2 separate regions of the Homo sapiens genome follow, and region 2 is linked to region 1. The links come from fine-mapping of genetic effects on gene expression. Tissue or cell type: whole blood. Region 1 holds a variant in brackets; the other region holds the start of a gene. All regions are shown on one strand. Distances are between the middles of the regions.

Region 1 (5,929 bases):
TGTGAAGCCTTTAAAGCAGAAGCAAATTGTAAGTCATCAGAGGAAATATGACGTGCTTGAATTAAAAGACACACATATACAATCACTCACACGCATACTCATACATAGACACACACTCATACACACGCACATATACTCATACACGCTCATACACACTCATACACATTCACTTGCACATATATACGGACACACATACATACCATCAGACACTCACATTCACACATATATAGACACATAAACACACAGACACACACATACACACATAAACACACTCCTACTCGCACACACTCATACAGACACGACACTCATACACACATACACTCACACTCACATGCAGTCATTCAGATGCACACACTCAGACACACTCATATACTCAGTCACACACATATACATAGACACACTCGTACACATACACACATACACTCACACTCACTCACATATACATAGACACATACTGATACACACACATATACCCATTCACACACACATAGACATTCATACACATATACACATACACACACGTATACAGACACACACTCATACACATACCCACACATATACTCACACACATAAACTCACATGTATACTCATACACATATACATAGACACACATTCACTCGCACACATATACAGACATACATACACACAATCACTTGCACACATATACATAGACACACTCATACAATCACTCACGCACATATACAAAGACGCATACACTCACATAGACACACACACATACACATATGTACAGACACACATATACTCACACACACTTATATATAGACACACACACACACTCTTCAGTAGTCTTCATGCACTGGTCTTCCTAGGCTACCCTTGCTGCTGCCTTTGAAATAACTGTGCAGGGGCTGGGCGCAGTGGCTAACGCCTGTAATCCCAGCACTTCGGGAGGCCGAGGTGGGCAGATCACTTGAGCCCAGGAGTTTGATATCAGCTTGGCCAACATGGTGAGACCCCGTCTCTACTAAAAATAAAAAAATTAACCGGGTATAATAACACATGCCTGTAATCTCAGCAACTCAGGAGGATGAGGTAGGAGAATGGCTTGAACCCAGGAGGTGGAGGTTGCAGTGAGCCGAGATCATGCCACTGCACTCCAGCCTGGGTGACAGAGGAAGACTGTGTCAAAAAAAAAAAAAAAAAGCTGTGCAACAGCCTGTTGACTTCCCTGTAGAGCTCTAAGCTCTGGGACGACGGGTCCCTGTCTTGGGTGAGCATATATGTTTTGCGTGCCCGCCATGTACAGGGACGCCTGCAGGCCCTGAGTTCTGTCCAGTTTGAGCCATTGTGTCTGGAACATAGTGTTAAGTAAATATTTGCCGAATGGATGGATGGAAAAGGAAGGAAAGAGACCAGAAACAAAGTCTGCAACTCCTTCTCCTCTTCCTTACAAATTGTCCAATATGTCAGTATTGGACAGAGACTTAGCTTGACTTCATCAATACTTGAAAAGAAGGATTAAATAGTTGAGAATAAATGGAGCTATAGAGCAGTACATCTGTTCTCTGGGGTCAGCGATCCTGGGATGCTGCATTGGGAAGTGTTATTCCTGGTGGCCTCACAAGTAGGCACCGAGAATTTAGAGGATGGGGTGCCCTAAACAGCAGTGTTAGATCTTGCTAATGAGATGTCCTAGGCCACAGCTAACAGTTACTCCGTGTGTACTGTTGGGGCGCATAAGACCTGTTTCAAGCCACCACTTGGGAATGATTTTTGTTAGTTTTTAATTTTTTAAATATTTAATTTAATTTTAATTTTAATTTTATTTTATTGAGACAAGACAGAGTCTCGCTCTGTTGCCCAGGCTGGAATGCAGTGGCGCGATCTCAGCTCACTTCAACCTCTGTCTCCCAGGTTCAAGTGATTTCTCGTTCAGGCTCCCAAGTAGCTGGGACTGCAGGTGTGCGCCACCACAGTTGGTTAATTTGTTTTGTTTTATTTTGTTTTGTATTTTTGAGATGGAGTCTCACTCTGTCGCCGAGGCTGGAGTGCAGTGGCATGATCCCAGCTTACTGTAGCCTCCACCTCCTGGGTTCAAGTGATTCTTCTGCCTCAGCATCCCGAGTAGCTGGGACTACAGGCACGCGCCACCATGCCTGGCTAATTTTTGTATTTTTTGTAGAGATGAGGTTTTGCCATGTTGGCCAAGCTGGTCTCAAACTTTTGGGCTCAAGTGATCCACCAGCCTCGGCCTCCTACTAAAGTGCTGGGATGATAGGTGTAAGCCACTGCACCCGGCCATCTGTTAGCTTTTTAGAAGAGAGTTTGTCCAGGTGCAGTGGCTTATGCCTATGATCCCAGCACTATGGGAGGTGGAGGCAGGAGGATTGCTTGAGCCTGGGGATTCCAGACCAGCCTGGGCAATGTAGCGAGATCCTGTCTATTTAAAATGTAAATCACAATAAACAAAAGAGAGGTGCAGCAAACTCTAGCAGGT[CCAGGTCCCTG/C]CAGGTACCAGGGGAACAGGAGACCCCAGTGATGGTCAGGGCCTTGTGTTGAGAGAGCTGACCAGCAGGCCCTGGGCTCCCTGGAGTGGTGCTCCTGGCCCATGGTCTCTGGGAAACCCAGCAGCACAAACCGCTTTGCAATGTGGTCAGCGTGAGGCTTTTTGGTTGCAAGTGGGTGGCAGGACAGAATCAGCTTGGAGACATTGCTTTGGCGTCTTTGAAACCAGAGAGGCTTCATGCCTTTTGGAAGGAGGATCTGGAAAGCAGTGGGAACTTAGGCTGCTGTCTGGTGCCTTCAGGCGTCAGCTCCTGCTTTCCTCGTGGGGCTGGTGGTGGTGGAGCCAAGTGGTGTTGGGGGTGGTGAGGCGGTCAGGGGGTGGTGGTTGGGCCTGTGGGTTGGCTTCAGGCCCCCAGTAGTGGGGAGAGCCACCGGCTCCAGCCCTGTTCCAGGTGCTGCTGGTTGGGTGGGGGCAAGCAGCAGGTTTTCCCTGCCCTTCTCCTGGCCCCCAGGGGTTGAGCTGGACTGACCCCTGGTATGGAAGCCTGGTAAGTTGGAGGCAGGGCTAGGCCAGGTGGGTATGGAGGAGCCCTCATATGGCAGTTGGCGAGGGCCCAGTGAGCCCCTCTCTGCTCTCCAGGTGGACCGGGTCAGCTACCTCCTGCAGGAGATCTATGGCATTGAGAACAAGAACAACCAGGAGACCAAGGTGTGTATCTGGGTGAGGTTTCCCTCTGCCATTACAGAAGCCCACACCAGGAGCAGCCGCGGACAGCAATGCTTGCCGGTTCCCTTCCATGCCTTCCCCTGGAGTCCTAGACCCGCTAGACAACATCATTTTTCCTTAATTTTTTTTAAAGCTAACAGTTTAGGGAACATTTTATCCTTTCTCCAGCAAATTCACTAGCTTCTGATGTAAATTGCCATCCAGGTTCCCCAGGGCAGCCCAGGAATGGGGGCCAGTGTCTCACCCTCTAGGCTCAGGTGTGTGGCACCCTGCTGCCCGGCTCCTGCCCGCCTCCCCAGAGACAGCACGTCCCTGCAGCTCCTGGGGGAGGGATGCTTATTCTGTATGTCCATAGAACCAGTCCTGGTGCCTGACAAATAAGCCGTGGTGTACCCCAGTCAGGGAATGTAGCAGGGGATGAAATTAGTTTTTTTTGTTTTTGTTTTTTGAGTCAGTCTCACTCTGCTGCTCAGGCTGTAATGCAGCAGGGAGATCTTGGCTCACTGTGGCCTCCGCCTCCCGGGTTCAAGCGATTCTCCTGCCTCAGCCTCCTGAGTAGCTGGGACCACAGGCACGCGCCACCACACCCGGCTAATTTTTTGTATTTTAGTAGCGACGGGGTTTCACCATGTTGGCCAGGATGGTCTTGATCTCCTGACCTTGTGATCCACCCTCCTCGGCCTCCCAAAGTGCTGGGATTACAGGCGTGAACCACCGCGCCCAGCCTAATTTTTAATTTTTGTATTTTTAGTAGAGATGGGGTTTCACTATGTTGGCCAGGCTGGTCTCAAACTTCTGATCTCAAGTGATCTGCCTGCCTCAGCCTCCCAAAGTGCTGGGATTTCAGGCCTGAGACCACCACGCCTGGTCGATGAACTTGTTAAAAGGCACACTGACATGAGTGAAACTCCTGCCTCTTAAGATCTCTTGGAAAGTCTCACAGGCCCGCTTCATTATGGCATCTGGGCCCAGGACAACTGGAGCAGCTCCACGTGGCGGGAGCGGAGCACCTGGCCGGGCCTCGCCTCAACCCAGGGAAGTCAGTGCATTCATGTTTCATACCAGGGGGCGGCCCACTTTGAGAAAAGGTTCAGAGAGGGAATGTTTTCAGCCGCCCGGGCATATGGTCTCTGTTGCACTGACTCCACGCTGCCATTACAACAGGAGCAGCGGGGACTGTATAAAAATGAGTGGGTGTGGCGGTGTTCCAGTAAGATTTTATTTATAGAAACAGGCCACAGGCCTAGTTTGTGGACACCTGTTTTAGATTTTTGGCTTTCTTTTTGTCCAGTTGCTAATGTGGTTTCTGGTAGCTGCCATTAATGAAAATACTTCTAACATATTAACTTGTTTTTTGTTTTTTTTGTTTGTTTGTTTTGAGATGGAGTCTTGCTCTGTTGCCCAGGCTGGAGTGCAGTGGCAGCCATCTTGGCCCACTGCAAGCTCCGCCTCCTGGGTTCACGCCATTCTCCTGCCTCAGCCTCCTGAGTAGCTGGAACTACAAGCACGTGCCACCATGCCCGGCTAATTTTTTGTATTTTTAGTAGAGACGGGGTTTCACTATGTTAGCCAGGATGGTCTCGATCTCCTGACCTCGTGATCTGCCCGCCTCAGCCTCCCAAAGTGCTGGGATTACAGGCGTGAGCCACCGCGCCTGACCATTAACTTGGTTTTTTTTAAACCAAAGATAACGGGTACCCTGACCCTCAGGAAGATGTGTTTCTTAGGTGCATCTGTTCCTCATTTTTTCTTTAGGTCTGAAGAACAGAAAGAGACCATGTTCTCATGATTTGGGTGGGTGAGGGGCACAGACCCTCCCCCTCTGCCAGGTGCTGAGTTTGCACTGGATTTGAGCCTGGTGATTCTGCTCTGGGGCAACCTCCCCCTCCCCTCTGGACTTCTCTTTGTCATGACAGCCCCCAGGGTAGGGTGGAGTGGGGTGGGACAGCTGGGGACAGGAAGCAGGAGCCGTACTCTGGCCTTTGGGAGGCTGCTGACCCACAAGCCCTTGTCCCGGCAGCCCTCGGACGACGAGAACAGCGACAACAGCAACGAGTGTGTGGTGTGCCTGTCCGACCTGCGGGACACGCTGATCCTGCCCTGCCGCCACCTGTGCCTCTGTACCTCCTGCGCCGACACGCTGCGCTACCAGGCCAACAACTGCCCCATCTGCCGGCTGCGTGAGTTCCCCGGCCGGCTGTTCTGTGGAAGGTTCTGGAAATTAGGGACTGGCCACACCACGGTGGTCCTGGGATAGGGGGCCACAGGTCCGTTGATGGCTAAGAAAGAAGAGTTGTCATTCATCTAGTCTGTGCTGAACGTGGGCGTGTTGGCTGTCGGAGTCAGTCACCGTGAGAGAGCTGGCAGGGACGCTAGCACGGGGCATTCAGATCTTCACGTCTGCCTCCAGCCAGGCAAGGCTTGCAGAACAAAGGGCTACAGAGGCGCTCCAGGGCAGATGAACTGAACGAAAATTGATGAGTGAATGAAATCTTTATTCTTATTTTATTTTTATTATTTTTTGTTTGAGACAGTTTCGTGCTGTCGCCCAGGCTGGAGTTCAGTAGCGAGTTCTCAGCTTACTGTAACCTCTGCCTCCTGAGTTCAAGCAATTCTCCTGTCTCAGCCTCCCTAGTAGCTGGGATTGCAGGCAACTGCCACCATGGCCAGCTAATATTTTACTTTTATTAGAGATGGGGTTTTGCCATGTTGGCCAGGCTGGTCTTGAACTCCTGG
Region 2 (5,464 bases), 22 kb after region 1:
CCTGCACATGTTCCCATGCATGTGTGTGCACTCGGACCGAGCATCTCCCACGCACCTCTACCCCACCCCAAGCACCTCTCTCCCCCCATGCACCTCTCCCCAACAACACACACAGCCCCCTGCACCGCCCGCCCCCCGCCCCCACCAAGGCCCCAGCCTCTGGCCATCAGTCCTGGTGCCAGAGCTTTGCGTGAAGTTCGGGCCGCAGAGTGGCCCGCTGGGACTCCCATGTGCTGCCGTCTGATGTGCTCAGATGGGCTCATCGTTGGTTCGTTTTTACTGTATATTTATAGTAATAAAATCATGCAGCAATATCCTGTCTGCTCCTTCCTCCGGGTGCAGCCCTCAGGATTGTGGCTGTTTCCTGACCCGGAGTTTTGCCGCTGGGTGGTTGGCGGTGGCTCCCGCACCGTGGCAGCTCCACGGCCTCTGCCTGGCTTCCCTCTGGGGTCAGGGCAGTGAGCAAGGTGAGGGCTAACGAGAACGGGCAGCTCCCAGCCATCCCTGTCAGGGCTAGTTGTCTGGTTGGAGGGAAGCCACACCCTCCAGATTGGGCTCTCTCGTGAACAGGTGGTTGGGGAGCCCAGGGCCTCCAGGTTTGTGAGTAGTCGCTCCGGTCCCCATCTCTAGTCCTGATCATCTCAAGGCATTTGCTGAGCACCTGCTGTGCGTCAGTGGAGGCAGAAGAGCTGAGGCCCCGGCCCTGGCCCCGGGCGCCTGCCTTCCAGGCAGTGAGATGCCCAGCAGCTAATCAGAATCCTGCCAGGTTTGGTTACTATTAGGAAGAAAGTCAGCATGGTGGTGAGATGAACCCGTACAAGGTCTCATTTAACCGGGTGGCAGGGAGGGCCTCTCTGAGGAGACTTAAACAGCCCTGAGGGCTGAGGAGGAGCTGGCCCTGGAAGAGTGTTCCAGGTGGCAGGAGTGAGCCTGATGTGTCCCCTGGGGACGGAGCCCCTGGCTGGAGTGAAGGGTGCTGGATAGATACTGAAGAGCTTGTAGGGGCTGCTGGAGTGTTTTTATAAGGGGGAGTCAGTTTTAAAAACAGGCTTCCAAGCGGAGAAGCAGTGCTAGCACCCTGCGGCTGGCGTGTGGAGGCCGGACGGTGGGAGCAGGTCTAGCTGCCCATGGTTGTGGGCTCGCAGGCTGGAGCCCGGCCCCAGGCCTCTGCACAGCCCCCGCTCCCCTGCCCAGGGAGTGGCCAGTGCCCCAGGGCACCCACCACACCACTGCCTACCACTCAGGGCCCCAGCTCCTTTGCGTGCAGGTCAAGCTGCCACCATGGCCCTTCTTTGAAGACTGTGAGGGTGGAGGGAAAGCCCGTGTTCTAGCCCATCAGTCCCTGCCCCGAGAAGGCTGCCACCCATGGGCCCTGCAGCTGCTCTGACCTGCCTGGGTCTGGCCCCATCCCAGTGTGGGTAGAGGGGTGCCCAGGGTGTCAGACGGGTGCTTGCATGGGCCAGATGGGCTCCCCCTCTGTACCTCCCAGAAGAGCCAGCGCTTGTATTGATGTCTGGTCTCGGGGAGGGGCTGCAGCAAGGGGAGCCTCTCCTCCTCTGCCCCTGCGTCCCACGGGCCCTGGGCGCTGGCTGGGCTTGGCTGCCTAGGGGTGGGGCCCTCTTTGGGTGAGAGGACCCTTCCCCTCGCTGCCCTCTCGCCTTCTCACATGGTCGCTCACTCTGGAATCTGGACTTCCCCTGCTGCTTGCAGCTGTCCCATGTGACCCCTGACCCACTGGTGGCCACAGGAGGAGAGAGAGGTGCCCTCTCTGGGTCCTTATTCTCCACATCTGAGGCCACCACGGACCTAACAGGTGAGTTTCCAATGCCCACCCTCTCCCTCTCTCTTCTCCTGCCTGCCTCCACTGAAGGCAGCCTTCTCTGTGCCAGCGAGCTCGGCCTCACTGCACGGCTCTCCCGAGGCTGTGCCCCAGCCCTGGGCACCCATGCTGTGAGTGCAGGCAGGGGGGTTCATGTGCTCAGCAAATCCATTCCCCTGGTGGGGAGGAAAGTGGCCCTGGGCCCTGCTGCTGGTGAGGTGAGCCTTGCCATCATGGAGTTCAGGGCACCTCGCTCTGCCTTGGGCTGTTTCGGATGCTTCTGAGCCCCAGAGACATCTCCAGTACAAACACAAGGTAAGTGGTAAGTACCTCAGGCCCTTGTGGAATCGGGATTCTGCCTCTGTCATCAACTGCCAGTTGTACTTAGGCAAGTTATGTCCCTCTCTGAGCTCCAAGTTCCTCATCGTAAATTGGGGAAACCCCTCTTCCCCCCACAGTACCTGGCACAGGGTGCCCGGCTTGGAGGATGCTGGAAAGGTCCAGCCCCGGAATTTAAGTCACTTTCTGCCCAGCAAGCTGGGTCCACAGAGCCCCAGAGCTCCCGGTCGTCCGCCCTGACCCAGCGTGGACTCGGGGACTGGGGCACTCAAGCCCTGCCAAGCCCTGCTCCCCGTGCTGTCCTGGATCGAGCCTGCCAGCAGGGTGGCTAGGTCGGGACAGCTGTCGTGCATGGCAGGCGAAGGCCATCTCCCTCCGGGCTTGGGTCCGGTGGCGCTGGCGGAGCAAGGCTCCGGGGCATCTCTGGCTCGTGTGGTCGTGCCAAGGGTGCCATTGCGGATGGACGGGGCCATGCGGGCCGGGTCGGCCTCCTGGGGAGAAACGGGTGGGCGCAAGGGGATCGGCGCCATCGAGGGTGGAGAAACCGCAGGGAATTTCGGCTGTCCGCTTTGGGGCGCCAAGGAAGATGTTCGTCGCCCACAATGTCAACCTTGAGCCACCACGGCACCGACCAGTCGTCTAGGCTCTCCCGTCGGAGGCGGGGCCGCCGCCCAGGGTGTGCGACTATTGGGTGACGGCTGACGCGCACCGCCCTCCTTTGCACACCGCCCGCAGCACCTCTCGACGACGCACCGCGGCGCTGCGAGGGGCTCGGTCCCGGGGCGCGCCGGCGATTGGCGGGGGAACCGGACCCGGGGGCGCGGCCGCCCGCGGATTGGCGAGGCACGGCGGGGGCGGGCTCGCGCATGCTCTTAAGTGGCAGCGGCGGGGACGGGGTCAGTGCCAAGATGTCGACGGCGGCGGTTCCGGAGCTGAAGCAGATCAGCCGGGTGGAGGCGATGCGCCTAGGGCCGGGCTGGAGCCACTCGTGCCACGCCATGCTGTACGCCGCCAACCCTGGGCAGCTCTTCGGCCGCATCCCCATGCGCTTCTCGGTGCTGGTGAGGACGGGCGAGGGCGCGGGCGAGGGTGCCGGCGCGGGCGGGCCCGGGCGGGGGCGTCCGTCGACCCCGCGGCTGTGACCCGCGCTCCCTTGCAGATGCAGATGCGTTTCGACGGGCTGCTGGGCTTCCCCGGGGGCTTCGTGGACCGGCGCTTCTGGTCGCTGGAGGACGGCCTGAACCGGGTGCTGGGCCTGGGCCTGGGCTGCCTGCGCCTCACCGAGGCCGACTACCTGAGCTCGCACCTGACCGAGGGCCCACACCGCGTCGTGGCGCACCTGTACGCGCGGCAGCTGACGCTGGAGCAGCTGCACGCCGTGGAGATCAGCGCGGTGCACTCGCGCGACCACGGCCTGGAGGTGGGGCCGCCGCCCGGGCCCCGCCCCCCGCCCCGGGGTTTGGCTCTGGCCCCGTGGAAGGCACCGATGGGTAACACGTCTCCTGAGGGTCCCCTGGCCGGGCTGGGTCGGGTGTCGCTGTCTCCAGCAATGGGGTGGGGAGAGGGGTCTGGGGCTGGGAGGCCGGGAAAGGAGGGGCGGGGGTGGGGGCCGGCGCTGGGGCTCCCTCAGGGCTGTGTTACATCCGCCTTGCTGCCTGCCATTGCCAATCCTGGGAGTGGGGGAGTGGGATCGGTGGGGAGGAAGGGATGGGGGAGGAGCGGGGATTGCTTGGGGAGTTGGGAAACTTGAGCACAGCGGGGGTTGTAAAACTTGGGAACCTCATGTTGGGCGTGAAGGCTCTTGGGATTTGTACTTTGTGGTCTGGAAGGGCTGGACTGCGGGTGTTCAGGCTTCGTTGGGTGGACGGGGGGAGCATGGGGTGCGGACCCCGGGGTGGGGTGGCCTGGGTACGAGGGGGGGGAGTGCATGGGGTCAGCCTCCACACTTGCTTGGGGAGGAGGGGGCTGCACTGCTCCGAGGGAGCTGGCTGGCTTCTGCCAGGCCCTGCGTGGGTCTCCCATTAAGTCCTTGGCAAAGCTGGCTGCTCATACCCTGGCCTCATAGCTTCCAGGCCCCTCCTGCTGGAGGTGCCATTGTGTGGCAGGCCTGGCCCCAACCCCTACCTCCTGTCTGCGCAGGTGCTGGGCCTCGTGCGGGTCCCGCTGTACACCCAGAAGGACCGAGTCGGAGGCTTCCCCAACTTCCTGAGCAACGCCTTCGTGAGCACGGCTAAGTGCCAGCTCCTCTTTGCCCTCAAGGTGCTCAACATGATGCCCGAGGAGAAGCTGGTTGAGGCCCTGGCTGCAGCCACCGAGAAGCAGAAGAAGGCCCTGGAGAAGTTGCTCCCGGCCTCCTCTTGAGGGCTGCCTGAGCTGGTGGCACCCTCCCCTGGGCCGGAAGACTGGGAATTCCTGCTAAGTGTGGCTTCTAGAGTGTTTGTGTGTACCCCGCTTCTGACTGCCTAGGGCGAGTGGGCATCCTGTCATCATCTCCACTGTCCCAAGCAGTCACTAGGTGGCGGCCGGGCCAGCTGGAACCCAGCCCATCCTCTCAGGCAGAGCAGGGTGGTCCGGGCACACTGGGCCTGCCTCTCCAGCCTCAGGATGCTCTTGTTTATTCTGGGCTCAGACCCTCCTCTTGTACGTCTCATCACAGCTGGTAGAGACCCAGGAGTGCCTGATTGTCCCACAGGGGTGGCGCACAGCTCTGGGACCACTCAGAAGATGGGATGTGTGGGTGGAGGATGCCTTGTCTCGGTCAGCTCATTCCTGCCTCCTTCCTGAGCCAGTTCAGGGCCTGGGGGAGAGCCAGCTTGGGGTAGGAAGTTAATAATACTGTTAATTTGGGTTGTTGTTGGATTTACTTTGCTAGATTTTCTCTTTCACCACGTGTGAACTGTGGGTGAGGTTTCAAAGTAGCTTCACCCCACGTGGCTTGGTTCCCAGGGACAGTCAGGGCCTCGGGGGCCCAGCTATGTACAACGAAGCTGTCGAAGGAGAAGACAATAAAGTCGCTCCGCAGCTGCTCTGTGTGTTTCTCAGCTGCCCTGTGTGTTTGTTTTGGTTCTGGATGGAACCAGCTCAGGCCCCCTGCCCTAGGTGGGGGAGGGAGGAGCTGCCCCAGCCAGGGGCACGTTTGTTCCCCAGTGTTTACTGGGGGCACTCCCAGCATGAATGCTGTGCCCATCAGCCAGGTTGGGGCGTCTGGGCCGAGACCTTCAGGGCAGGCTCCCCTTCCTGATCCTGGTGGCCCTGGCTGCACCTGGGCTGACCTGCTTTGCTTTGCAAACCCACCATTCCCCACTG

The links. PIP is the estimated chance that this variant, and not a neighbour inherited with it, causes the effect.
Region 2: it holds the start of NUDT16L1, and the variant in region 1 is fine-mapped to the expression of NUDT16L1 in whole blood (TOPMed, PIP above 0.99).

Annotation. Positions count from the first base shown.
Region 1 is chr16:4,668,285-4,674,213 of GRCh38, forward strand. It overlaps MGRN1 (mahogunin ring finger 1), which reads left to right. Exons shown (of 17, transcript NM_015246.4): 8 at 1-28; 9 at 3,107-3,175; 10 at 5,214-5,373. MIR6769A (microRNA 6769a) reads left to right here and starts at 3,034; the gene lies at 3,034-3,106. RefSeq lists enhancers at 4,784-5,373, 5,374-5,929. The variant CCAGGTCCCTG/C (reference allele first, on the strand shown) is at 2,459.
Region 2 is chr16:4,690,661-4,696,124 of GRCh38, forward strand. NUDT16L1 (nudix hydrolase 16 like 1) reads left to right here and starts at 2,902. Exons shown (of 3, transcript NM_032349.4): 1 at 2,902-3,219; 2 at 3,318-3,578; 3 at 4,298-5,184. The coding sequence starts at 3,067. The coding sequence ends at 4,519. It overlaps MGRN1 (mahogunin ring finger 1), which reads left to right. Exons shown (of 17, transcript NM_015246.4): 17 at 1-312. RefSeq lists silencers at 1-90, 2,753-3,112, 3,223-3,722 and enhancers at 2,473-2,562, 2,814-3,321, 3,322-3,829, 4,432-4,932.